Homo sapiens: one gene and its partners. The protein of the gene in region 2 purifies or fractionates together with the protein of the main gene of each other region. This does not show direct contact. Each region holds a gene or a part of one and is shown on either strand. Other genes may lie near its edges. The genes, in order: NT5C3A, SLC39A12, MANEA, POM121C, PODXL2, SLC25A17 and FAR2.

Region 1 (4,018 bases), on a different chromosome or scaffold from region 2:
CATTCAAAATAATATGTAATATATGGAAAATGTTTTTGTTGAGGAAGAAAGATAAATGAGACTGTGACCATCTTAGGCCTCACAATCAGACAACATTTAAGTCATATTGGTATTTGGTGCAAAACTGGATTCATAAAAAATTACTTTGGCGACAAAATGACACAGTAGTCTAGATATTGATACTCAAATATTCTGGGTATTAAAACTCAGTCTTCTTCAGGTTATACTCCCAGCTAACTTACTTTGGGACACGTTCTCGGTCTATACTGAGTCTGTGTTCCCAGGCTTAAGTCCTCAAACTTGGCCGAGTAATAAAACTAACCATGATTTCTTTAAGTTTTAGTACCTGTTATTTCACCTTTCGGTCGACAAATCGTTTTTCTCATGTTCCTCTGTCTTACATCAATTTAATTTGTAGACCAGCCAAATGACCTAAAAGGCTAGAAGGAAACAATTTTTCCTCCCCTACAACTATTTCCTCTAGTCCTCCGGCTGAAAGTTGTTCCACGTCCTGGGCAGAGAGAGCCCCACCAGGCAGCACCACCAGCTCCACAGAGTTGGAGCGATTCCCCCAAGAAGCTCCCCTGCGCCCCTCCTCACCCCCAGAGACCAGCAGAAGAAATGGCATCTATCCCTTGGAAGACACTAGGCAGGAGAGAACAACTGCAAGCCCTTCTGCTCACACAGAAAAAAGGATGGCGGAGGTGGCGAATGGGATGTAGCAGAAACCCCGCGGCTGCGGCGGAAGGGACACCGCCCCTCTCCAGCCTAACTCTGAGCCATCTTCCCCCTGTTGTTATAGCACTTAGAACGGACGCCACTGCGCAGGTCACACCGTGCCGCGCAGCCTTCTGGGGGTCGGAGTCCAGAGGGGCTGAGGCGCGAAGGCGGAGACCGACTTCTTAGCGGGCCGCAGTTGGAATTAGATTTCTACTGGGGCGGGGCTCGAGCGAACCACGGCCTAATCCTCATTAGCAGAGAAGGATAATTACCGCAATACTCTGCCCTGCCCTGACAGCAGCTCGTGAGACCCTGAGTCTGCTGAAGGCCGCCTCCAGCCTGGGCTCCGGGCACAGGCCACACCCCTCCCGCCGCGTCCTGGCCTCTCCCATCGATGGCGTGTGGGTGGGGCTTCGTGGGGGCGGAGCTGCGCGGGGCGGGGCGTCGCTGCGCGGGGCGGGGCGTCGCGGGCTCGTCCGTGATGCTCTGGGATCCCGCGCTTCCGAGACTCGCAGTCTACGCGAGCTGCCTGTTTTTTTCCTGCTTGGACGCGCATGAGGGCCCCGTCCATGGACCGCGCGGCCGTGGCGAGGGTGGGCGCGGTAGCGAGCGCCAGCGTGTGCGCCCTGGTGGCGGGGGTGGTGCTGGCTCAGTACATATTCACCTTGAAGAGGAAGACGGGGCGGAAGACCAAGATCATCGAGATGGTGAGTGTGGAGGCTCGGCGCGCCCAGAGCACGCGAGGGGCCGGCTGGGCCGTCCGCTGGCCTCGGCAGCCTGTGCTGGGCCGCTGTTCGGTCGCGACGGGGAGCTGCCGGCGTCGCCTGTCAGGCTGGGATCTCGCTAGCTCGGGACGCGCAGCTTGGGGGACCCGGCCGCCCCGCGTGCGGCCACTCCGCGGGCTTGGTGACCAGGGTTGGGTCCCCGGCTGCGGCCCTTGGCTGCCCGTGGTCTTTGTTAGGTTTCCGTTTGAAGGAACAAGGCAGAAAATAGATGAATCGGACACAGGCTACTTTGTGCTGCAAAACCCGTTTCTCTAGAGATAAGCTGCATGTCCTGGGCAGGTGGCTCCTTCTCTCCCTGCCTTGCTCCCGCCCTCCCCCCGGATCCGCGTCAAACCGTTGCCGCTAATCTAGTTGCAATTCCCGCAGAGGACTAGTTTTATGTTGGGGCTGCCGTGAGTTAGATTATGAAAATGTGCAATATCTAAAATTTTACAAGAATGGCAATCCAGGAGAAATTCAGGATAGTTTATTTTGTATTTGAATGTATTCCTTCTTGTCTCAAAACTCCCACGAAATATCTTTGTTTTCATCTTAACTCCCAAAGCTCTTGTATACATTTTCGAATTTAATTTTTTATTGAAGAGGGTGTCTCAAGAATTCCCTTTGAGATACATTATAAGTAATTGTTTCAAAAATGAGGATATTTAGTTTCGTTTTGTATTTTAATTAGAACCCACTCAGGAAGACAATTCTTGCACAAACTTGCACGCTTATGTATTTCCTGAAATGCATAATCCTGGGTATACGCCTGACCGTGTGCTATACATGTGAACATCTAGGGTCAGATGATTTATGATAGAAAAAAATTTAAAATCTACACTAAATAATATCATTTTAGGGTGTAATACTTGGAATTTCTGAGCACCTGCAATATGTTCCAACTGACGAAAGACACGATTTGTCCTATTGGTTGTACTGACCCCAGGTTGAATACAGATGTATTTGCATAATTAAAATTAGCCAGTGTCCCAGCTATTTGGGAGGCTGAGAGGAAGATCACTGGAGTCTGGGAGTTCAAGGTTATAATCACACCTGTGGATAGCTACTGCACTCCAGCCTGGGAAACATAGCGAGACCCTGTCTCTTAAAAAAAAAAGTTAATTCCCACTTGTCTCATATTCCAATAATATTCCCTAATTTTGAATTAATTTATTCTTAAAGGGTCTTAATAATTCTAAAGGCTTATTAAAATTCATTTGTCCCACATCTGTATGCCCACAGCAGCAAATGGTTTTAACTCAGAAGTTTCATTTTGCTTTTGTTGCTTTCCTGCTTAGAAAACTTGGCTTTCTTTTGCCCAAGGTTAATAATGCCTATGTAGGGGAAAAAACCGAGTTGCCATATCTCCCTGCCTGTGCTTAAACTATGGATTGGTCTGTATACCACTTATCTAAGCCAAGTAAGGTTAAAAATCAGTGTGTTCACAAAATCCTTCAATGATACCATCATAGGAACAGTTTGCTATCTTTGTGACAAATAATGAAGACCTATCTAGAATACCAACTTATTGGTACTAAAGAAATCAGTCAATATTTACATGTATGCATAGTATATTAATTCAGATTGTAATATATGTGTAGCCTGCTAGTAGCTTTTCAATGGAAAAAGTGAAAAGAGCTTCATGTTAACTTTTTTAATTTTAATAGGTTGCTTCTTCAAGTGGAAGAAGTATTTGACTGGGGGTCAGAAGACCTGGGTTGGAATCCTAGTTCCATCTTTCTGTAATAATGTAGGTCTGCTCTGCCCATCCTCTGCCCTCCTCCCTCAGAAAAATCTCTGCAAACCCATGATGTCCAACAGACATAGCTCATATTGGTCACAGCTAACGGAGTTAACTACCTAACCAAGTTGGGCCTATCTAACTGGCTAAGAAAACCAATAACTTCTGGGACTTGGTCAAAATGATGCATTGTCTTGCAAGAGTTTTTAATTGAGAGACATGAGGAAGTTGCTAGTGGGTTGTGTATGCTACAGCTGAAATATCCCATAGGGCAGCAAGATTAATGTACAGAAGAAGCCAGTCATGGCTAGGCATGGTGGCTCACACCTGTAATCCCAGCACTTTGGGAGGGTGAGGTGGGAGAACCCTGTCTCAAAAAAAAAAAAAAAAAAAAAAAAAAGAAGGAAAGCAAGATACGGAATGGGATCAAGAAACTGAATTGTAAAGGAATTTTGTAAAGCCATTATAAAGAGTTTGCTCTTTATTTTGCAACAAAGGATCATCAAAGGTTTGCTTTGGCAGGGTACAGTGGCTCACGCCTGCAATCCCAGCACTTTTGGAGGCTGAGGCGGGAGGATCCCTTGAGCCCAGGAGTTCGAGACCAGCCTGGGCGGCATAGGGAGACCCTTTCTCTACAGAAAATAAAGATTTTAGCCAGTGCAGTGGCACACACTTGTAGTGTAGTCCCACCTACTTAGGGGCCGAAGGTGAAATCTCTTCAGTCAAGGTGGTCGAGGCTGCAGTGAGTCGTGATCACACCATTGCACTCAAGCTTGGGTGACAGAGTCACCCA
Region 2 (2,434 bases):
CGAGTGTGGCAGCACATGCCTGTAGTCCTAGCTACTCAGGAGGCTGAGGCAGGAGAATTGCTTGAACCCGGGAGGCAGACATTGCAGTAAGCTGAGATCCCACCACTGCACTCCAGCCTGGGTGACAGAGTGAGACTCTGTCTCAAAAAAAAAAAACTTTATATATATATATATGTATATATATACACACACACACACACACACACGCACACATACACACACACATACATACACACACCATATATATGTGTATATATATGTATATACATATGTATATATGTGTATATATATGTATATACATATGTATATATGTGTATATATATGTATATACATATGTATATATGTGTATATATATGTATATACATATGTATATATGTGTATATATGTATATACATGTATATATGTGTATACATATGTATACATATGTATATACATATGTGTCTATATGTATATACATATGTATACGTATATGTATGTACATACATATGTATACGTATATATATGTACATACATATGTATATGTATATATATACACACATATATGTATATGTATATATGTATACATATATATATGTAGCCACAGGAGATAATGTCCTTACTGTTCTAAAGATCAGGAGGATCTTAGTCATCGCTCTCTCTCTCTCCTTTTCTTCCTCCCTCCTCCCATAATATGTATATATGCCTTACATCAACCTGTGCATATAGTAGTTCTATAAGCCTAATAGAACAGTCCAAAATAATAATTTTGATGCATTATTTACTTCACATTTAAACATTTTCTGAAAAGTAAGAGTTGGGTTTGTTTTTGGTTGGTAACTATGTCATTTTAAGACTTCTACCAAAGGCCAGGTGCAGTGGCTCACGCCTATAAGCCCCAGCACTTTGGGAGGCCGCAACATGCAGGTTGCTTGAGCCCAGGAGCTTGAGACCTGCCTGGGCAATACAGGGAAACCCCATCTCTACAAAAAAATGCAAAAATTAGCTGGGTGCAATGGCACGCACCTGGAAGGCTGAGGTGAGAGGATTGCTGGAGCCCAGGAGGTTGCTGTGAAATGTGATCGCAGCCATTGCACTCCAGCCTGGGTGACAGGGCAAAGACCCTGCCTCAAAAGAAAAAAAAAAAAAAAAAAAAGACTTTGCCAATCCTGGGATCCTCATAACCACAATCAAATGGCTTACTTTTAGCTTACATTTCAAAGACATGGTAGAGTAGGTATTCAGCATTTTGTAACTGTTTTGGGAATTTTAAAGGTTATTAAGTTCTGAATAACAGTCGCTCATGTTTTCCCACCAAGCTTTTCCCAGCAGTTGAATATATCTGGATCTTATTCTGGTTTTTTATTCTTTTTTTAGCTTCCTGAAATGACTCATGTTCAAACACAACGACCCTGGATGATGTTTCTCCTGCAAAACTTTGGATTGATCCTAGGTTGGCTTTCTCTCCTGCTCTTGGCTATATATGAGCAAAATATTAAAATATAAGTGAGGATCTTCAACATCTTTCAAAAATGCATTTATATAGTCTTACTTTGTTTCTTTCATTGCACTCTATAATGATTTTTAAATTAAGAATTTTTTATCTTAGGCAAAGTGTGTCTCTTTCAATTCATTAACTTATTAATTTTATAATGCAGTTTTATTTTTGGAAACATATAAATATCAGACTGTCCTTAATTGAAATTTTGTCTTTGGTTTCCAACACCATGATGAAGCTCTTGCTTTTTAAAAAGTAGTTAGTAAATTCTGCATGAATTTTAGTAAACTTTAAAAAATAGATTTTTTCCCTAAGAAAGAATGTTTGTAGAATTTAAAGTGGACAGATGCCTGTTGGAGTAAAATCAACTGCAACTTTTTGATGTTAATTTTTTTCCCTGTGCAATTATAAACTATAAGCAAGTTAAGTGACAAGCAAATGTAATAAAGACTAGTTTTAATATGGTGGTTTTTATTACCTTCTGTTACTGGATGTCAGATTCTGAGTCATCTCTTAAAAAAACAATGTATAGTTCACCCACTGACTCTAGAGCGCTTGTGAACAAGCCATTTTGGGAGACCTAAAGGATAACATGTCAGCATTCTTCTATGTAAGTCGTCAAATGAAATCTGTTCCAGGCAAGGGGAGCTGGAAACATAAGATGAAGTTCAAAATTTTTAAAGTAACAAAACTGGAGTCAGGCAGTAGATGAATGCCTAAACTCTCACAGATTTAACAGAGAATATTTATGGGAATAATCTCACTAACACGTGAGATATATTTTATCTTCTTTCTGAGGAAACAGAATCCTGAACAGGATTTCAATAGGTAAGTTCATGAAATGTACATGCAATTTACTGATAACCTAGCGAAAGTGTTGAAACAGAAAATAACCCTGGCTTTAGTCAGTTTTCTTAGAAAACAGATGCCTTATATTTTTCTTATTTTTTAAATGCTATT
Region 3 (3,500 bases), on a different chromosome or scaffold from region 2:
TTATTGTAATGAATGTCACCATCATTTCGAAGAACATTGCTGAAGTTTCTTATAATTCACTTTCTTTTTGGAAGATTGCTGTTTTTACTGTTTTACAGGTTTATAGGCTATTTATGATTTCTGTAGTTTTGATATTTTAAAATGACATTATTTTCTAAACCTTCAGAATATAGCTTTATCTTTTTAAAAAGAAGGTTCAGATTATTAAAAGTGAACTACTTCTTTTAACACAGTAGACCCAGAGCTGATATTTTCATTTATATCTAGCCTGATCAAAAAGAATTTATTAATACAGTTTTCATTTTTTGAAAGAATTTTACTGATAATAGTCTGTGACAGATGCCATAGTCTTACAAAGAAACTTGTCAGCAACAGTAGAACATTTATCACTGATAGATAAAAAAGCAGTTTAGGTATTATGTAGAGTATTATTTATAATGTAGAGACATAGGCTTTTTATGGCATTAGTCATCATTTGTAAACCTCAATATGAGATGGTTAATACTTGTTTGGTAATGCATCCAGTATCTCATTTTCTAATGTGTAAAATTAAAAATGCATTTTTAATTATTACACTTACACAACTGATTCCCCTAAGAAATGGAGCAGTGTGCTCAAACTGCACTGACTCCTTCATTTTCAGTAAACAGTTTTTGTCTGTGGCAAATTAGTTGTGAATATTCATTTCACTTTTATATATGCTTATTTTCTAGATATGGAAATCATCCGGCCTTTTACAGGTACAAGACGAAGACTGGCAATGCTCTTCCTATGTTTTATGTCTATGATTCCTATATTACCAAGCCTGAAAAATGGGCCAATCTGTTAACCACCTCAGGGTCTCGGAGTATTCGCAATTCTCCTTATGATGGACTGTTTATTGCCCTTCTGGTAGAAGAAAAACATAAGTATGATATTCTTCAAAGTGGTTTTGATGGAATTTACACATATTTTGCCACAAATGGCTTTACTTATGGCTCATCACATCAGAATTGGGCTAGCCTAAAATTATTTTGTGATAAATACAACTTAATATTTATCCCAAGTGTGGGCCCAGGATACATAGATACCAGCATCCGTCCATGGAACACGCAAAACACTCGGAACCGAATCAATGGGAAGTATTATGAAATTGGTCTGAGTGCCGCACTTCAGACACGCCCCAGCTTAATTTCTATCACCTCTTTTAATGAGTGGCATGAAGGAACTCAGATTGAAAAAGCTGTTCCCAAAAGAACCAGTAATACAGTGTACCTAGATTACCGTCCTCATAAACCAGGTCTTTACCTAGAACTGACTCGCAAGTGGTCTGAAAAATACAGTAAGGAAAGAGCAACTTATGCATTAGATCGCCAGCTGCCTGTTTCTTAATGCATTGATTAAAGTTTAATAGTTATCAAAATCACCTAATTTTTAAAAATAGCTTTCGTTTTGAGTTCTGGAAAGAAAACTGTCAAAATCAGTATATACTATTAGTTATATTTAAAAATATTTTTTTAAATTCTTTACAGATAATATTATACTTGTTACCCTTCACAATACCACATGAGAAAATATCTGAGACAAAATGTATACAAATATATTCCTTATGGCATAATTTATTGCATTTCTGACTGAAATCAAAATTCTGATTTGATGGCAATTGAATTTTCATTTTACAATAGATAAATGCTTGTGCTACCTAAAGCACTTAGCACACAGTTAAATTATATTTACATCCTAGACCCAAATAAATAGGATTGTGTGTATATTTGGGATATCTATTGAAGAAAAAAAGAAAACCCCTTAAAGATAATGTACATGCTTCATGTCATGTCTTTAAAATAATTTAATCAACTTTATTGTCTTAGTATTTAGACTCTGGATAACTCTACAATAATGAGGAAATTCTTAAGAATAACAAAATCACTGTACCTTCCTCTCAATTTTGCTGTGAACCTGAAATGGCTTTAAATTAATACTCTTATTTTTTATTTAATTTAATTACATAAATTAAACCTTACCATGACCAAATTGTGTTAGGACGGCCTGCTATCTACAGCACAGTGTGTCATTTGCAGATTTGTGGTTACCTATACCACGCTAGGTGTTTTGACATGTTTAGTGTTTCTGCTTTACAGTGCTGAATTCCATATTTTAGAAGCTATGAAAGTCCTTTTATGAAAAAGTTACTGATTGCTTCTCAGTTATTAGGAAAACAGTTGTTTCACAATTATTATGTAGATATGATGCCCAAATATCATTTTTAGTATATCTTGTCGATCTTTAAGTTGTTACTATTGTGTTATTCATGTCTTTAAATCAGATACCAAATATTTTTTAGGAAAGAAAAATGTTATTACTGTCATTAGGTTGTCTTTTAATACTTTAAGTTATTTTGACGAAAAGTAATAGAGAAAATTTACTTAGCATTTTAGATTCTAGAGACATGGAAATGAAAATTATTTTATGTCTAGAGTAGGTCCTGAAGTTTGGCTTTACATTAAGTTTAGCACTGTATCAGAATGAAGAAACTAATATTTTACATAAAAACTAATACTTTCAATTTTTTATATAGTAATATCCCCATTTTGTAAATGTTAGACTTTTATCATACCTGTAAGTTAAAATACTTGTTATCAATAACTTGTCATGTTGTGACAAATTGATCACTTGTGTACGAAAAATAAATCTCCTTAAAAACTAAATAAAATGCACTGTATTCTTACAGTTAATGTTTATAACTATAGTAAAAAATTAATATATATCCTATTACATAAATGTTATTTCTTAGGTGTTCCATTAAGAAGAGCAATAGAATAATGCTAAAAAATAATGCCTATAAATCTTCAGAGTATAAAGACATCCATTCAGAAACAAAAATTAGCACTAAATTTTTTATAAAATAGACCAGATGACAAAATTTATTTTATTTTTAAACAGTGGTTTTGACACAAATTATGTTATTGAAAAGCATTATTAATGTTTAATTTATTTAAAATTTTGGAATTTGCCATTTCTCAGAGAATGATCAGGCCTTAGGAAATTAATACAGTAGTAGTAATCATTTTCTAGGGGAAAATAAAAGAATAAATCACTATACTGATATTTTGATACAAGCAAGCACTTACATGGTAATCACTATATAGATCCAACCTGTGGATTTTCTTCTTATGTCCATTTAACTAGAATATATTATTTTAGGTATAATTTACAAATGTCACACCTAATAATCTTTTATAATATACCATATTTCATTAAAGTTTTGTTAGAGAAGTATCTACCACAGAGGAGTTTTTGTCATTGTGTACGTTGTGTATTTGAACCCACCATGACAGAAAGTAAATTTTAGGAAATAGTTATGAGATTAAGGGAAAATCTATAAAAACAAGGTTAGCATATTCTCAACACAGATACCACCACTTTCTTTTTCCCATTATAGACATGGTGAATCCACACAGCATACTTCATCTCTGAGCTTTGTTGTGATTCCTCAACACATTACCCTAACCAGCCAGCAG
Region 4 (3,500 bases), on a different chromosome or scaffold from region 2:
CCACGCCCAGCTAATTTTTTGTATTTTTTTGTATTTTTAGTAGAGATGGGATTTCACTGTGTTAGCCAAGATGGTCTCCATCTCCTGACCTCGTGATCCACCCCCCTTGGCCTCCCAAAGTGCTGGGATTACAGGCGTGAGCCACCACGCCTGGCCATGACAGCGTATTTTTAAAATGAAGTTACTAAATGAAAAATCGAAAATTTAATGGAAGCAAGACTAAATTAGTTTACTGGGTTGTCTTCTTTAATTTACTTGTATCCTTTCCGTAGACAGTCTGGCACAGGTTTGAATGTGTCCTGGCTCTTCATTACTGAGGCTAATATATGCAAAAGTGTGTCCATCCCTTCTACCTTTATTCACATTCCATTACTTTTATAGACTTTTCTTTTTTTGCTTTCATAATTAATACTGGCAGTTGACTTTCTTTTCAGGGGTCTTTCTTCACAAACAAATTTTTTTCATTTTCATTTTCTATTTTTTTTTTTTTTTTTTTTTTTTTGAGACAGGGTCTCACTCTGTCACCCAGGCTGGAGTGCAGTGGGGCAATCTCAGCTCACTGCAGCCTCCTGAGTAGTTGGGACCACAGATGCAAACCACCACACCCAACTGATTTTTCAATTTTTTGTAGAGACGGGGGTCTCGCTATGTTACCCAGGCTGGTCTCAAACTCCTGGGCTCAAGCAATCCTCCCACCTTGGCCTCCCAGCATGCTGGGATTACAGGCATGACTAACCATTTAACCATAAAAAATATTTTTTTAGTCACTTAAAAAGAGACTTTGTCATGTTGAGGGTCAGATGCTAAGTTATCAGCAGGCTCAGTCATGTCCCTCTTGATTTTTAGCTGTGGAAGAGAAATGGCCCCAGTTCATCACCCTTCTCTAGCCCAGCCTCATCCCGCTCCCAGACACCGGAGAGGCCAGCAAAGAAAATAAGGTATTCGGCATTCTCCTGCAGTTTTCATTTGCTACGTGGACAGAAGGGGGTGAGGAAAGGTGGGAAACGAACCTGGCTCTTAGGCTTTGTGCTGCTGTGACTTGGAGAATCAAAGAAACTAAGTCCCTGAGAGGGACAATGCAGCACCCACCTGAACAACTATCATCCCTACAGTCTTGGATACTGACTCCAGTGGCCTCTGGCTGTCGCCTCCCACTCCAGCATGAGGGATCGGGTGCAAGCACAGAGGCCATGCAGAGTGGAGAGCAGAGAGAGTCAAGTCAGCGGGCAGTCGCCTTCAGGTTCTTGACTCGAGCTGATCCCCTAGGTGCTTGCAGTTGGCTGGAATGCCACTCCCTCAGGGATCACATCTGTGTCTAGAACTCCCAGGGACTTGGTAGGTTGTAAGTAAGGTTTGAAGATTATTGTTTTGTGCTTGTTTTAAGACAAAAACTGTCTTCATGGCCTCTGTGAACAGCCTCCCTTCATTCTGTTGGAATTTCCTGTTGACTTTTTTTATCCTGGCATACTGAGATCTTAAATGATGGTTGTTTTAGATGTTGGCCACTTGGTAGTTAGGAGGGTGTGAGAAATTATTTAATACTTCAGCCAAGAAGTCTTTCTAGACTAAATTGTTCCTTTTTTCCCAACAGAGAAGAAGAGCTGTGTCATCATTCCAGTTCTTCAACTCCATTGGCAGCAGACAAGGAGTCCCAGGGAGAAAAGGGTAGGTTGCTGAGCCAGGAGGAGGGGCTGCTGTTGGTGGTGGAGGTATTTGTGGAGGATGTAGAGATTAATACCTATTGAAAAAAGGTCTTGAGCATTGCTATGTCTAAGGCATGTTAGATACAAAGAGAGAGATTTCCTCTCCTTCAGAAGTTTATAGTCTGATGAGGGAGAAAGGCTACAGATGGGGGCTAACGATTGGATAGAGGTAAGCTCAGTTTGAGTCACCTGTGGGTGATCCCAGTAATTACTGCACAGTAAGCGGTTTGTGTGCGCGCCTTAATCTTACAAACACCATCCAAGCAACCAAACCATAGAAGATTGAATCTTTTCAGAGATACCATCATTGAAAACTCAGTGTGAAATGCGAAGTGGGTAGACACAACCATCCATTTCTGGAAGAGGGAAGGAAGCAAACGAGTCTTGATTTCTTTCTTTAGCTGCAGATACAACCCCAAGGAAGAAACAAAACTCGAATTCTCAGTCTACACCTGGCAGCTCTGGGCAGCGTAAGCGGAAAGTTCAGCTGCTGCCTTCTCGGCGAGGGGAACAGCTGACCTTGGTATGGTCTTGTCCATCTACTCCTGCCCTCCCCGGCTTAGCTCTCCTAAGTCTTAGGAACGCTAAGGACAAGTTTCTTCTGTTTTTTTTTCTAACTTATTTTTGTTTTTGTTTTTTGAGACAACATCCCTCTGTCACCCAGGCTGGAGTTCAGTGGCTCGATTTTGGCTAACCGTAACCTCTGCCTCCTGAGTTCAAGCAATTCTCCTGCCTCAGCCTCCCAAGTAGCTGGGATTACAGGCGCTTGCTACCACGCCTGACTAATTTTTTGTATTTTTAGTAGAGATGGGGTTTCACCATGTTGGCCAGGCCAGCCTCAAACTCCTGACCTCAAGTGATCCAGCTGGCTTGGCCTCCCAGAGTGCTGAGATTACCGGCGTTAGCCACCACGCCCAGCCTTCCCGTTTTTTCTGATTGGCCTGACTTCTTCTTTTTCTCTTTGGTAGCCTCCACCTCCCCAGCTTGGCTATTCGATCACTGCCGAGGACCTAGACTTAGAGAAGAAGGCTTCATTACAGTGGTTCAACCAGGCCTTGGAGGACAAGAGTGGTAAGGAGCACAGATCGTTGCACTCTCGAGAGGTTTCAGGTGTCTGTTTTCTTTGGTTTTATTTTGGTGTTTGGAAAAATGGGTTTCTCTGGGAAAATCCGAAGTAGAGTTCCATGTTTTCTTGTGGTCTTTCTCACCTGAGATATCCGTGTTGGTCTTCACGGGAACTGGACAGCAGGGACTACTGCAATTTAGGGCAGACATTCCTCCATGAGCTGTGCTGAGAGCCTGCTCTCCGACAGGCATGTGGAAAGAAGTCCCAGACAAGCCAGGACTGCTTCACCTTTCTTTCTTTCTTAGATGCTGCCTCGAACTCTGTCACTGAGACCCCACCTACCACTCAGCCTTCATTTACCTTTACCCTGCCTGCTGCTGCAACTGCCTCCCCACCCACCTCCCTCCTGGCCCCAAGCACCAACCCACTGTTAGAGAGCTTGAAGAAGATGCAGACTCCCCCGAGCCTGCCACCCTGCCCAGGTGAGCTGGAGTGGGGCCGTGGATCCAGCCTTCTGAGCAGCATCCCCGGCTTGGGTTGGAATAAGGGCGTCGTGCCTGTCAGTCGCTGGAGATTGCTCTGCAGGCCGAACGCACCCTGGCTCAGCACACCGGAGCGGGCCTACGTTTAACAGCGCCGGAGCCCACATCAGGAAGTGTTAGAGAAGGGGTGCTGCGACGCTCAGGATCTGAAGCCTGGCTTAGCTGCCCTGAGCCTCGCCTTCCTCATTT
Region 5 (3,500 bases), on a different chromosome or scaffold from region 2:
ATGAGTTAAAATATACTAGTAATCAAAGGCCATTATAATTTTTCCTATCAAACTGACAAGGGAAAGAGAGAACACTTGGTGGGGGGTGCGGCGTTCATTCTCTTCGTCTCCTCCCATATCTGGCCACCTCTCTACACCACTTTCCCTGCAGGCTCCCATCTTCATCCCTTCCCTGGTCTCACTGTGCCTAGAGATGGTAAGCACTCAGCTGTTGCTAGCCACAGATCCTTAGCCAAAGGACTTGTGAGTCCTTTGGTAGTTCACCTGTATCCAGCCCATACCTTCATAAATCTGCTGCTTCATAAACAAACTCTCCTTAGATTGTTTTAATTTGATTGTGTCTTCTGTTTCCGCGTGGGATGCTGACTGATACATCTTTTTTTTTTTTTTTTTCTGAGATGGAGTCTCGCTCTGTCCCCCAGGCTGGAGTGCAGTGGTGCAATCTCAGCTCACTGCAACCTCCACCTCCCAGGTTCAAGCAACTCTCCTGCCTCAGCCTCCTGAGTAGCTAGGTTCACAGGCGTCCGCCACCACACCTGGCTAATTTTTGTATTTTTAGTAGAGACGGAGTTACACCATGTTGGCCAGGCTGGTCTCGAACTCCGGACCTCATGATCTGCCCACCTCGAACTCCCAAAGTGCCGGAATCACAGGCGTGAGCCACGTGCCCGGCCCTAATACATCTTTTGACCTATCAATTTTATTCTAGAAATTTATCCTAAGGAAACCACCAGGAAGGTGCGAAAATGTGTAAGGATATTTGTAGCAGAATTAAAACTGAAGACAACCTAAGTATTCAACAGTAGGGAACCAGTTTAATACACCTGATGACCCACATGATGAAATATAACGTAGTTGTTAAAAATCAGGGCTGGGCACGGTGGCTCATGCCTGTAATCCCAGCACTTTGGGAGGCCGAGGTGGGCACATCACCTGAGGTCAGGAGTTCGAGACTAGCCTGACCAACATGGAGAAACCCTGTCTCTACTAAAAAAAATACAAAATTATTCGGGCATGGTGGCACATGCCTATGATCCCAGCTACTCAGGAGGCTGAGGCAGGACAACCGCTTGAACCTGGGAGGCGGAGGTTGTGGTGAGCCAAGATGGCACCACTGCACTCCAGCCTGGGCAACAAGAGCAAAACTCCGTCTCAAGAAAAAAAAATCAAGTTATAAGCCAGGCACAGTGGTTCACAGCTATAATCTTAGCACTTTGGGAGGCCAAGGGAGGAGGATCGCTTGAGCCCAGGAGTTCAAGACCAGCCTGGGCAACATAGCAAGACCCCATCACTACAAAAAAATGAAAAAATTAGTCAGGCATGGTGGCACATTTTTGGTCCCTGCTACCTACGAGGCTGAGGTGGGAGGATCGCTTGAGCCCAGGAGTTCGAGGTTACAGTGAACTATGATCACACCTGAACAATGGAGCAAAACCTCAACTCTAAACATAAATAAATAAATAATAACATGTTGTCCGGGTGCGGTGGCTCAGACCTGTAATCCCAGCACTTTGGGAGGCCGAGACGGGCAGATCACTTGAGGTCAGGAGTTAGAGACCAGCCTGGCCAACATGGTGAAACCCTGTCTTTACTAAAAATACAAAAATTAGCTGGGTGTGATGGCGCATGCCTGTAATCCCAGCTACTCGGAGGCTGAGGCAGGAGAATCACTTGAACTCAGGAAATGAAGGTTACAGTGAGCCAAGGTCACGCCACTGCACTCTAGCCCAGGTGACAGAGCAAGACTCCATCTCAAAAAAATAAATAAATAATAACATGTTTAAAAATCAGGTTATAAATGGATATTTAACAATGCGGAAATATACTTATGAAATATTTTGAGTGAAAACAAAATGTCCCTATGATTCCAATTTTGCACATAAAGTGACTAGAACAATGTATCCCCAAACTACTAATAGTAATTATCTTTCAATTATCAGGTTATAGGTAGTTTTTATTTTTTATTTTATTTTATTTTTTTTTGAGATAGAGTTTTGTTCTTGTCGCCCAGGCTGGAGAGCAGTGGTGCGATCTCAGCTCACTGCAACCTCCACCTCCCGGGTTCAAGCCATTCTCCTGCCTCAGCCTCCTGAGTAGATGGGATTACAGATGCCCGCAATCATGTCCAGCTAATTTTTGTATTTTTAGTGGAGACAGGGTTTCACCATGTTGGCCAGGCTGTTCTCAAACTCCTGACCCCAAGTGATCCACCCGCCTCAGCCTCCCAAAGTGCTGGGATTACAGACGTGAGCCACCACACCCAGCCTTATTTTCTTCTTTGTATTATTTTTGTGTGTTTCAGATTTTCTACAATGTTCATGTGTTCTTTTATAATTAGAAAAGGTAAATCCAATAAATATTACCTATTTTAAAAAGAAAAATTAAAGGTTAAGTTCTGTAACACCTTGCCCCATGTGCACACACAATCACACCAATTCCTCAGTCCCTACTAAGAGATGGGGCCCTGCTGGCCCAGGACATTGGTGGAGGGGCCATGCCTGCATCTGTATCAATGTCAGCTCATGGCGGTGGGCATTCAAACCTGGAGCCCTAGGCCTCGGGCTTTCTTCGGGACCCAAATGTTCACCAGCTGGGCTCTGTAGATCCAAACACCAGCTCTAGCTCTGGTGCATGACTGAGGGAAGGGCGGTTAGAATGCCTCAATTGCTGGTCGGATAGACTCAAGGAAACATGGATCAGCTGACCTTGTGGCAATCTTCAACAGAGACAGCATAGAGCAGTAGGGAAAAACAAAACAATGAGCCCCAGGGCTTGGAAAGCCATAGGTCTGAATCATGACTGAGCATCTGAGCTGCTGTTTGACCTCAGGCCAGCTTTTAACCTCTCAGTCTCAGTGTTTTCTTGTCTACAAGGGGGGTCATATTACTTATCTCTCAGGTTATAAGCATCAGATTGAATTAAATGAGCACAGAATAAAGGCTCCCTAAACAGTGGTTAGTATTAAAGAGAAAGGGCCTCCTGGGCCTGTGAGACATTCAGGGTCCCAGAGCCTTTGCTCTGATGTGCAGGTAAACAGCAGCAGCATGGTAAAAACTGTAGGGAGAGAGAAGAGATGCTTCTGGCAAGGAAATGGTCACCTGGTGTTTTGCCTAGACACTTGGCTGGCACTCAACACATGCTCTGTAGGTAAGAAGAGCTACCTGCAGTGGGTCCCAGGTCCAGACTTGAGTCATTCAGCTCTTCCTCCTCTTCCCAGAAGTACTGTGGTGGCTGCAGAATCCGAGACTCTTCATTCTCTTCGCTGGGGAAGCCTGAGCCAGGGGCTCCCAGCCCAGCTCCCAGGCCCATGGTCTCACTAGGCTCCTCTGAGTCCAGTGGCTCCAAGCCAGTGGGCAGCAGGAGGTCTAGCAGGGAGGTGGAGGTGAGGCCCTCTGGGCCAGGCTCATCAGACCCAGCCACACAGGCACCCAGGAACGCTCCTGTGCAGACATAAAAGCCAGACAGTCAGGGGAGGCTAGAGAAGACACAAGACTGGTGCC
Region 6 (3,500 bases), on a different chromosome or scaffold from region 2:
ATTAACCGATAAACTTGACCCCAAACTATCATTGCAAGAAAGAAATCTTTTTTTTTTTTTTTTTGGAAATGGAGTCTTGCTCTGTCACCCAGGCTGGAGTGCAGTGGCACAATCTTGGCTCACTGCAACCTCTGCCTCCCGGGTTCAAGCAATTCTCCTGCCTCAGCCCCCCAAGTAGCTGAGATTACAGGTATGCACCGCCACACCTAGCTAATTTTTGTATTTTTAGTAGAGACAGGGTTTCACCATGCTGGCTGGGCTGGTCTCAAACTCCTGACCTCGTGATCCACCCGCCTCGGCCTCCCAAAGTGCTGGGACTACAGGCGTGAGCCATTGCAACCGGCTGCAAGAAGGAAATCTTTATAGAACCAGTATGGTTTGTGTTCTGGGTACATTTCAACAGAATTCATGTTGTCTTCTCTAGTTGGGGGATTGTGATCATGCTTTTCAAAAGTCCCTGATTTCTTGCTTAGATGCTTTTCATCAGATCATTCGCGATGAAGGAATCTCGGCTTTATGGAATGGCACATTTCCCTCATTGCTGTTGGTCTTCAATCCTGCCATCCAGTTCATGTTTTATGAAGGTTTAAAACGGCAGCTTTTAAAGAAACGGATGAAGGTAATCCTTGATTTTGAAAGCAGTAAAATAATTCTGTCTGACACCTTCTTGTTGACTTGATTGATATGGTTTGTTCTTCCTTTGCTTTCCAGCTTTCTTCCTTGGATGTGTTCATCATTGGTGCAGTAGCCAAAGCGATTGCCACCACGGTGACCTATCCCCTGCAGACGGTACAGTCAATTCTGAGGGTGAGTGCTGGAGTTCTCTTCGCATTTAGTCAAACAGCATTCGAATACATGTAGTCTCTTGATTTAAAACAATGTTAATAAAGCAATAAAGCAGTTAGTTGGTATACCAGAATATTCCCTATCTGTTTTTTTTCTTTTCTTTTTTTGAGACAGGATCTCCCTCTGTCACCCAGGTTGGAGTACCGTGGTGCACCATGGGTCTCTATACCCTCGACCTCCTAGGTTCAAGCAGTCCTCCTGCCTCAGCTGCCCAAGTAGCTGAGACTACATACACCACCTTGTCCAGCTAATTTAAAATTTTTTTGTGTGAAGATGGGGTCTCACCATGTTTTCCAGGCTTGTCTCAAAGTCCTGGACTCAAGCGATCCTCCCACCTTGGCCTTCCAAAGTGCTGGGATTATAGGCATGAACCATTGTGCCTGGCCCCCATTTTTTCATTTGTTTGATATTCTGCTTAACTAGGCTGGCTGTCATTGGTTTAGAATGAAGTTTGCATTTGTAATTTCTTAGGTAACATAATGTCTCAGAAAACACAGATGTGGAGACAAGTTCCTTAAAGACCTCAGGAAAGCATAAGTTTGCTTCCTTCTCATTCAAGTTGATTGGTTTGGTGCCCCAGCAGGGATTATCCTTTACAAAGTCAGAGGTTAATTCCTTTAGTTCACTCAGGAGGAATGAATGATTTAGCTTTTTTGAAGCACTCTCAAACTTCTGTTTTTTATTTCATTCAGTTATTTATCCATTCAAATATTTACTAAGCATCCACACTGTGGGAGGACCTGGGCATGCAGTGGTAAATAAAAGTCATAATCCCTGCCCTTATGGAGCTAGTGGAAGAGAGAATGAACAGGTAAACAAGCAAAATAAATAGGTAATTACAAATTGAAAAAAGAACTATAAAGGAAATTATTTACTGGAGAGGGGCATGGTGGGGCTCTTCTTAGATAGCATGATTGGAGGTGGGCTTCTTTGAGAAGGAATATTTAAATCAAGATGCAAAGGAGGGTAAGGCCCTAGTGGGGCAGAGTGGACGAAAGTGCATTCCAGGCAGGGGGAGCATGATGTGTGTGTTAGTCCATTCTCATGCTGCTCTAAAGGACTGCCTGAGACTGGGTAATTTATAAAGGAAAGAGGTTTAATTGACTCACATTTCAGCATGGCTGGGGGGCCTCAGGAAACTTACAATCATGGTGGAAGGGGAAGCAAACATGTCCTTCTTCACATGGCGGCAGCAAGGACAAGTGCAGGGGGAACTCCTCCTATAAAACCATCAGATCGGTTGGGCGCGGTGGCTCACGCCTGTAATCCCAGCACTTTGGGAGGCCGAGGCGGGTGGATCATGAGGTCAGGAGATCGAGACCATCCTGGCTAACAAGGTGAAACCCCGTCTCTACTAAAAATACAAAAAATTAGCCGGGCGCGGTGGCGGGCGCCTGTAGTCCCAGCTACTCGGGAGGCTGAGGCAGGAGAATGGCGTGAACCCGGGAAGCGGAGCTTGCAGTGAGCCGAGATTGCGCCACTGCAGTCCGCAGTCCGGCCTGGGCGACAGAGCGAGACTCCGTCTCAAAAAAAAAAAAAAAAAAAAAAAAAAAAAAAAAAAAAACCATCAGATCTCATGAGACTTATTCACTACCACAAGAACAGTATAGGGGAAACCACCCCCATGATTTAGTTATCTCCACCTGGCCCTGCCCTTGACTTGTGGGGATTATTACAATTCAAGGTGAGATTTGGATGGGGACACAGCCAAACCATATCAATGTACTAAGAATTTGGTGTATCCTAGGGACTGAAAGAAGGCCTCTATGGCAGTAGAGTGGCTCAGGGTGAGATTGCAAGAGCAGCAGGGAAACTGTAGGTGAGGAATGTAGATTTTTATCCTCAGCACTTTAAGCTGAGAATATGTGATGGGAAGGGCTTTAAGCTGGGGAATATGTGCTGTGATTTACAATTGAAGAAGACTGTTGTGGCTATTATGTGGTGAATTGGTCAGAAAGCTAAGAGAGAAAGCCAGGGGCAATCTAGTAGGAGGCCATTTCAGTAATACAGGCAAGAGAGGATGGTGGCCTGGACCACGGTGGTGGCACTGGAGAGGAGAGGGGTAGGATGAGGACAGATTCAAGATCTGTTTTGGAGAAAAATTTCAAAAGGCTTGTTGCTAGATAAAATAGGGGTGGTAGTGAGAATATTCCAGTTCAGAAAAATTAGTACCTTCTGTTAAAAGCATTTTTACTAATATATTATTTTAAAATTGGTACTTAACATAAGGGAATTCAGTAGCATCCTTATAAATGTATTTTAACACTTTTATAATGTAAACACATAATCTGAAGAGCTTAGACTGCAGATGTTCTAAATGATTCATTTCTCAGAATTTCTTAAAGAAGTGGAAGTTATTACCATCAATATCTAAATCATCATCCTGGGCATATTTTTTTCTTTTGAGGTAGAATTTTCCCTATACCTCTCTATAAAATGAAAATTATTATGCTTGCTTCATTGAAAAATTTTTCTTAGGCCGGACATGGTGGCTCATGCCTGTAATCCCAGAACTTCGGGAGGCCGAGGTGGGTGGATCATTTGAGGTCAGGAATTCGAGACCAGCCTGGCCAACATGGTGAAACCACATCTCTGCTAAAAATACAAAAATTAGCCGGGCGTGGTGGTACATGTCTATAATCCCAACTACTCGG
Region 7 (3,500 bases), on a different chromosome or scaffold from region 2:
AACGTGGCTCCTCTAGGTAAGCAGCCCTTAGTGCGCATCTGCCCGAAGTCCAGATTGATCCAGCCAAGCTGTGGGGCTTCACAGCTCACACTGAAGCATTTAGGGTCTAAACCCCACTTCATTCTTCTGTACAATGAATAGGAAATCAGTGATCTAAATGAGTTTAAATTTTATTAGGGATTTAGACTGCGATTCAGACTCTGACTCTGTTCCTCCCAGAACTAGGTTCAACATGAATTGCAATACAGATATGAGACAGTGAATTATAACAGTGACAAAGATCTTCCTTCCGATTTCTGATTTTTCTAGCAGCCCCTTTCTTTCTGCTTCCCACCTGCCTTCAACTCTTTCTTCTACAAAAGTTCAGTTGGGGTGAACGTTTAGTGACTTAGAACATCATTATTTTAACGTGATCCCAAAACGGCTTTCATTACATGCAAAGCTACATATTTATTTACATTTTCTAAAATGTTCTAAATTGGTTTCTTATGTCCAAAAGAAGGGGAGCTAGTTATAAGAAAACAGAACTGAGTAACATAAGAAAGTGCTAATCGTTGCAAATCAATGTTGGAAACATGCAAAGCACAAAGAATCAATTTCATAAACTCAACCAATTATTAACATGAATAATTCCTAATTCTTGCATCTATATAACATCAGTGATCTGTGAGGTGAACTAAGATACTGAATAAAAAGTAAATAATAAGGCAATTTTTCCAAGCCAAAAAAAAAGTTTTCTTTTATTAATGGTGGAATTTCACCAATTAATGTTTTTCAAATAAGTATTTCTTAAACTTTTAGTGCCTACTATTGCTTGTAAGTTAATAAACCCTAGCAGAAAACAAAATCATCAAGGAAATGGTAAACAAATATTAATGGGAAAATTAATGGGAAATTTGTATAACCTTAATTCTTAACATGTCTTATGAATTAATTTTTAAGATGTAAAAGTTTATTCTTGGTGTTTGTTAATTGAGTTTATTAACCTCTCACAAATTTGAGGAATTTTATTCCCTAAAGGAACGTGAGGAACACTAGTAGTTCATGAAAATGCTGGAGACGCATGCACTTGGCTGGGAAGGTAGGATAGGCTGAGGAAGTCAGACTTAGCATAAGAACCTGGTAAGCAGTGGATCAATGTTAGCTGTTTTCACTTATTGCACTAGTATAACCAGTTTGATGATACATACTTTAGCCCCAGCTATTATTTAAGACCTGGTTTAATATTTTATGTTCTTTTTCCTATGCAGACTGGGAAAGGGTTTCTTCGGGCCATAAAAGCTACTCCAATGGCTGTGGCAGACGTAATTCCAGTTGATACAGTCGTCAATCTCATGCTAGCTGTAGGATGGTATACTGCAGTTCACAGGTGTGGATGCTCAAGTGGGCTTTCAAAGACTTCATGAGGGGCAGAGTGAATATATTAGGCCCATTTTCCAAATATAGGCATTTCATTGTACAAGACCCCAAATGTGTGAAAGTGCGTATTTCAATATTTTATAGAGTTCCTAATATGCCATCATATATGCATTGAGTTGTTTTATAAATACAGTTTAGTACTTGGCTACTCATAAAGTAATAAAACCTTTAAATCACTTAACCATAAAATTCTTGATAACCAAAAGGCTTTTCTTTCTATTCAGTAGTCTAAAATTCAGCTTTCTCTTTTAGGGCAAAGGAGATAGAAGCTGATGAAATGACAGAATTTTTTTTTAATTGAACTCTGGTAAATGCCAAAAGTTCAGTCACGATGTGTGGGGAAGCTTCCTGGTACAAAGGAAAAAAAATAGGTTGTTCATATATTTGGGTCTGTTAGTAAATTAAATTTTTCTTATGTGAACTCACATATATGTACTCCATAATATGTCACTCCTATTTAACATCTCTTTCACACACACACACACACACACACACACATGCTTTTCCTAGTCTTCTTCCATTTTGCTTATTAACCCAGAGAAAGAATGAACGATGGAAGCCTTTCATAGGTTGCCTTAATCAGATGAATTACTGAAACCACTCTGTCTAAATATTATTTTTCCTTATTTTTCTCTCATTAGTTTTCTATTTTGTTGTACTTATCTAATTTTTATTTCATTTTCCAGACCTAAGTCAACATTAGTCTACCACATTACATCTGGTAACATGAATCCCTGCAATTGGCACAAAATGGGTAAGTACTTTAGCTATGTAACTCTATAATTACTAGTGTCTGGCACAGAGAAAAAGTTGACAAAGTGTGTCATGGAGCTTAGAGCTTATATGGGGAGAAAGACAAAAAGTAAGTAAAGAGACAAAATAATGAGAAATTGTAAATGTGTGATAGTTAACTAGAATGTACTGTGGTTACCAAAGAAAGGAGTCAGTGGCAACATGTACAAGATTGTAAGCAGTAAGGGGTCCATTGGCTATAGCGATTTTAAAAATGATGAAACAAAGCAAAAGTTGGCAGTTATAAAGAATGTCAGTGATAAAATACTGAAATACTCCTCCCTGTTGGAGCAATGGCTCCTACACACACCCCTTCCCTTCTTGATATGTCACTGAGAATGCGACATCATCAATGACCAATGAGATAGAAAAGTTAGGTGATATTAATCCTTTGTTATTGAGTCCATCATACTGATCATTAATTTATGCAGCTTGCCTCTCAGGTGTGCAATAACCACTCCACTAGCGATTTGTAAAAGTGAATAGGAAGCACTATGGGAGAAATAAAAACAACACCCAGATTCCTTGAACCCTGGGACCAAGGTCTTGGGTGGTGCTGAGGAAACTATATGTTTAATAAGCATCTAGATGATTCTTGATGCTTGGTGAAACAGAGAAACCCTGTACTATACAAATGATTGATCTGTCTGAATGTAAAGGATTGGATCTGTTCAATGTATAAAACCATGGAAATAGAGTTGAGTACAACTTAAACATCTAATGATGGTAGAAAGTTAAAGTAGGGAGTTTGGCTATTCTGTAGGATTTCTTACTACCTACTAATGCACACTTTCTTTCCCTGTTACATAGGTAACACTACCTCTACACATTCCAGTGGTAAGCCATGGTGCCACACTGAGAGTTCTATTGCAGGGCAGCTAGACACTGTGGCTCATTTTATAATAGGCTTTGAATTGAAAAATGCTTTTCCAAGAATGGAAAATACCTGGCATGCAGGTATTTTTCTCTCCTCCTCTTACACCTATAGCAAACATTGTTGGCTGATACAACATTGTTTCTTCCTGTGCCAAGGCTCTGTTCTAGATTCCCATCTAATATAGCATTTCTGGAAGATATTACTAATTAATCTGATGTTGCATTCAAATTAAATTAGTTTGTGTTTCCTACCAGGGTTAAGAGGGATCAAAATGCTTCCTACTAGGAGCAGTAGCCATGCCATAGGAGGTTGAACATACATAGCCTCAGGTGACATTACAAGGAGTGACAGACAGCTGGGTCGGTGAACATGGGATATCAGAATCTCTTATGCTATCAACCTGTGCATAACT

The links.
Region 1: the proteins of SLC39A12 (region 2) and NT5C3A purify together in Homo sapiens (affinity purification with mass spectrometry; 3 studies listed by BioGRID and IntAct, with this or other methods). This does not show direct contact.
Region 3: the proteins of SLC39A12 (region 2) and MANEA purify together in Homo sapiens (affinity purification with mass spectrometry; 3 studies listed by BioGRID and IntAct, with this or other methods). This does not show direct contact.
Region 4: the proteins of SLC39A12 (region 2) and POM121C purify together in Homo sapiens (affinity purification with mass spectrometry; 3 studies listed by BioGRID and IntAct, with this or other methods). This does not show direct contact.
Region 5: the proteins of SLC39A12 (region 2) and PODXL2 purify together in Homo sapiens (affinity purification with mass spectrometry; 3 studies listed by BioGRID and IntAct, with this or other methods). This does not show direct contact.
Region 6: the proteins of SLC39A12 (region 2) and SLC25A17 purify together in Homo sapiens (affinity purification with mass spectrometry; 3 studies listed by BioGRID and IntAct, with this or other methods). This does not show direct contact.
Region 7: the proteins of SLC39A12 (region 2) and FAR2 purify together in Homo sapiens (affinity purification with mass spectrometry; 3 studies listed by BioGRID and IntAct, with this or other methods). This does not show direct contact.

What each region holds. Positions count from the first base shown.
Region 1 is NC_000007.14:33,059,977-33,063,994, reverse strand, and holds the start of NT5C3A (cytosolic 5'-nucleotidase 3A), read left to right. Parts: upstream 1-1,218; 5' UTR 1,219-1,289; coding exon 1,290-1,427; intron 1,428-4,018. UniProt on the Homo sapiens protein: Nucleotidase which shows specific activity towards cytidine monophosphate (CMP) and 7-methylguanosine monophosphate (m(7)GMP). CMP seems to be the preferred substrate.
Region 2 is NC_000010.11:18,041,352-18,043,785, forward strand, and holds the end of SLC39A12 (zinc transporter ZIP12 isoform 1 precursor), read left to right. Parts: intron 1-1,353; coding exon 1,354-1,482; 3' UTR 1,483-1,934; downstream 1,935-2,434. UniProt on the Homo sapiens protein: Uniporter that promotes Zn(2+) import from the extracellular space to the cytoplasm across the cell membrane. The transport activity is temperature dependent. May play a role in neurulation and neurite extension.
Region 3 is NC_000006.12:95,605,035-95,608,534, forward strand, and holds part of MANEA (glycoprotein endo-alpha-1,2-mannosidase), read left to right. Parts: intron 1-713; coding exon 714-1,371; 3' UTR 1,372-3,500.
Region 4 is NC_000007.14:75,423,800-75,427,299, reverse strand, and holds part of POM121C (nuclear envelope pore membrane protein POM 121C), read left to right. Parts: intron 1-846; coding exon 847-938; intron 939-1,591; coding exon 1,592-1,665; intron 1,666-2,104; coding exon 2,105-2,226; intron 2,227-2,671; coding exon 2,672-2,774; intron 2,775-3,074; coding exon 3,075-3,251; intron 3,252-3,500. UniProt on the Homo sapiens protein: Essential component of the nuclear pore complex (NPC). The repeat-containing domain may be involved in anchoring components of the pore complex to the pore membrane. When overexpressed in cells induces the formation of cytoplasmic annulate lamellae (AL).
Region 5 is NC_000003.12:127,639,185-127,642,684, reverse strand, and holds part of PODXL2 (podocalyxin-like protein 2 precursor), read right to left. Parts: intron 3,441-3,500; coding exon 3,162-3,440; intron 1-3,161. UniProt on the Homo sapiens protein: Acts as a ligand for vascular selectins. Mediates rapid rolling of leukocytes over vascular surfaces through high affinity divalent cation-dependent interactions with E-, P- and L-selectins.
Region 6 is NC_000022.11:40,774,347-40,777,846, reverse strand, and holds part of SLC25A17 (peroxisomal membrane protein PMP34), read left to right. Parts: intron 1-473; coding exon 474-619; intron 620-711; coding exon 712-807; intron 808-3,500.
Region 7 is NC_000012.12:29,309,778-29,313,277, forward strand, and holds part of FAR2 (fatty acyl-CoA reductase 2), read left to right. Parts: exon of another isoform or gene 1-126; intron 127-1,250; coding exon 1,251-1,369; intron 1,370-2,105; coding exon 2,106-2,173; intron 2,174-3,500. UniProt on the Homo sapiens protein: Catalyzes the reduction of saturated but not unsaturated C16 or C18 fatty acyl-CoA to fatty alcohols (FAls). A lower activity can be observed with shorter fatty acyl-CoA substrates.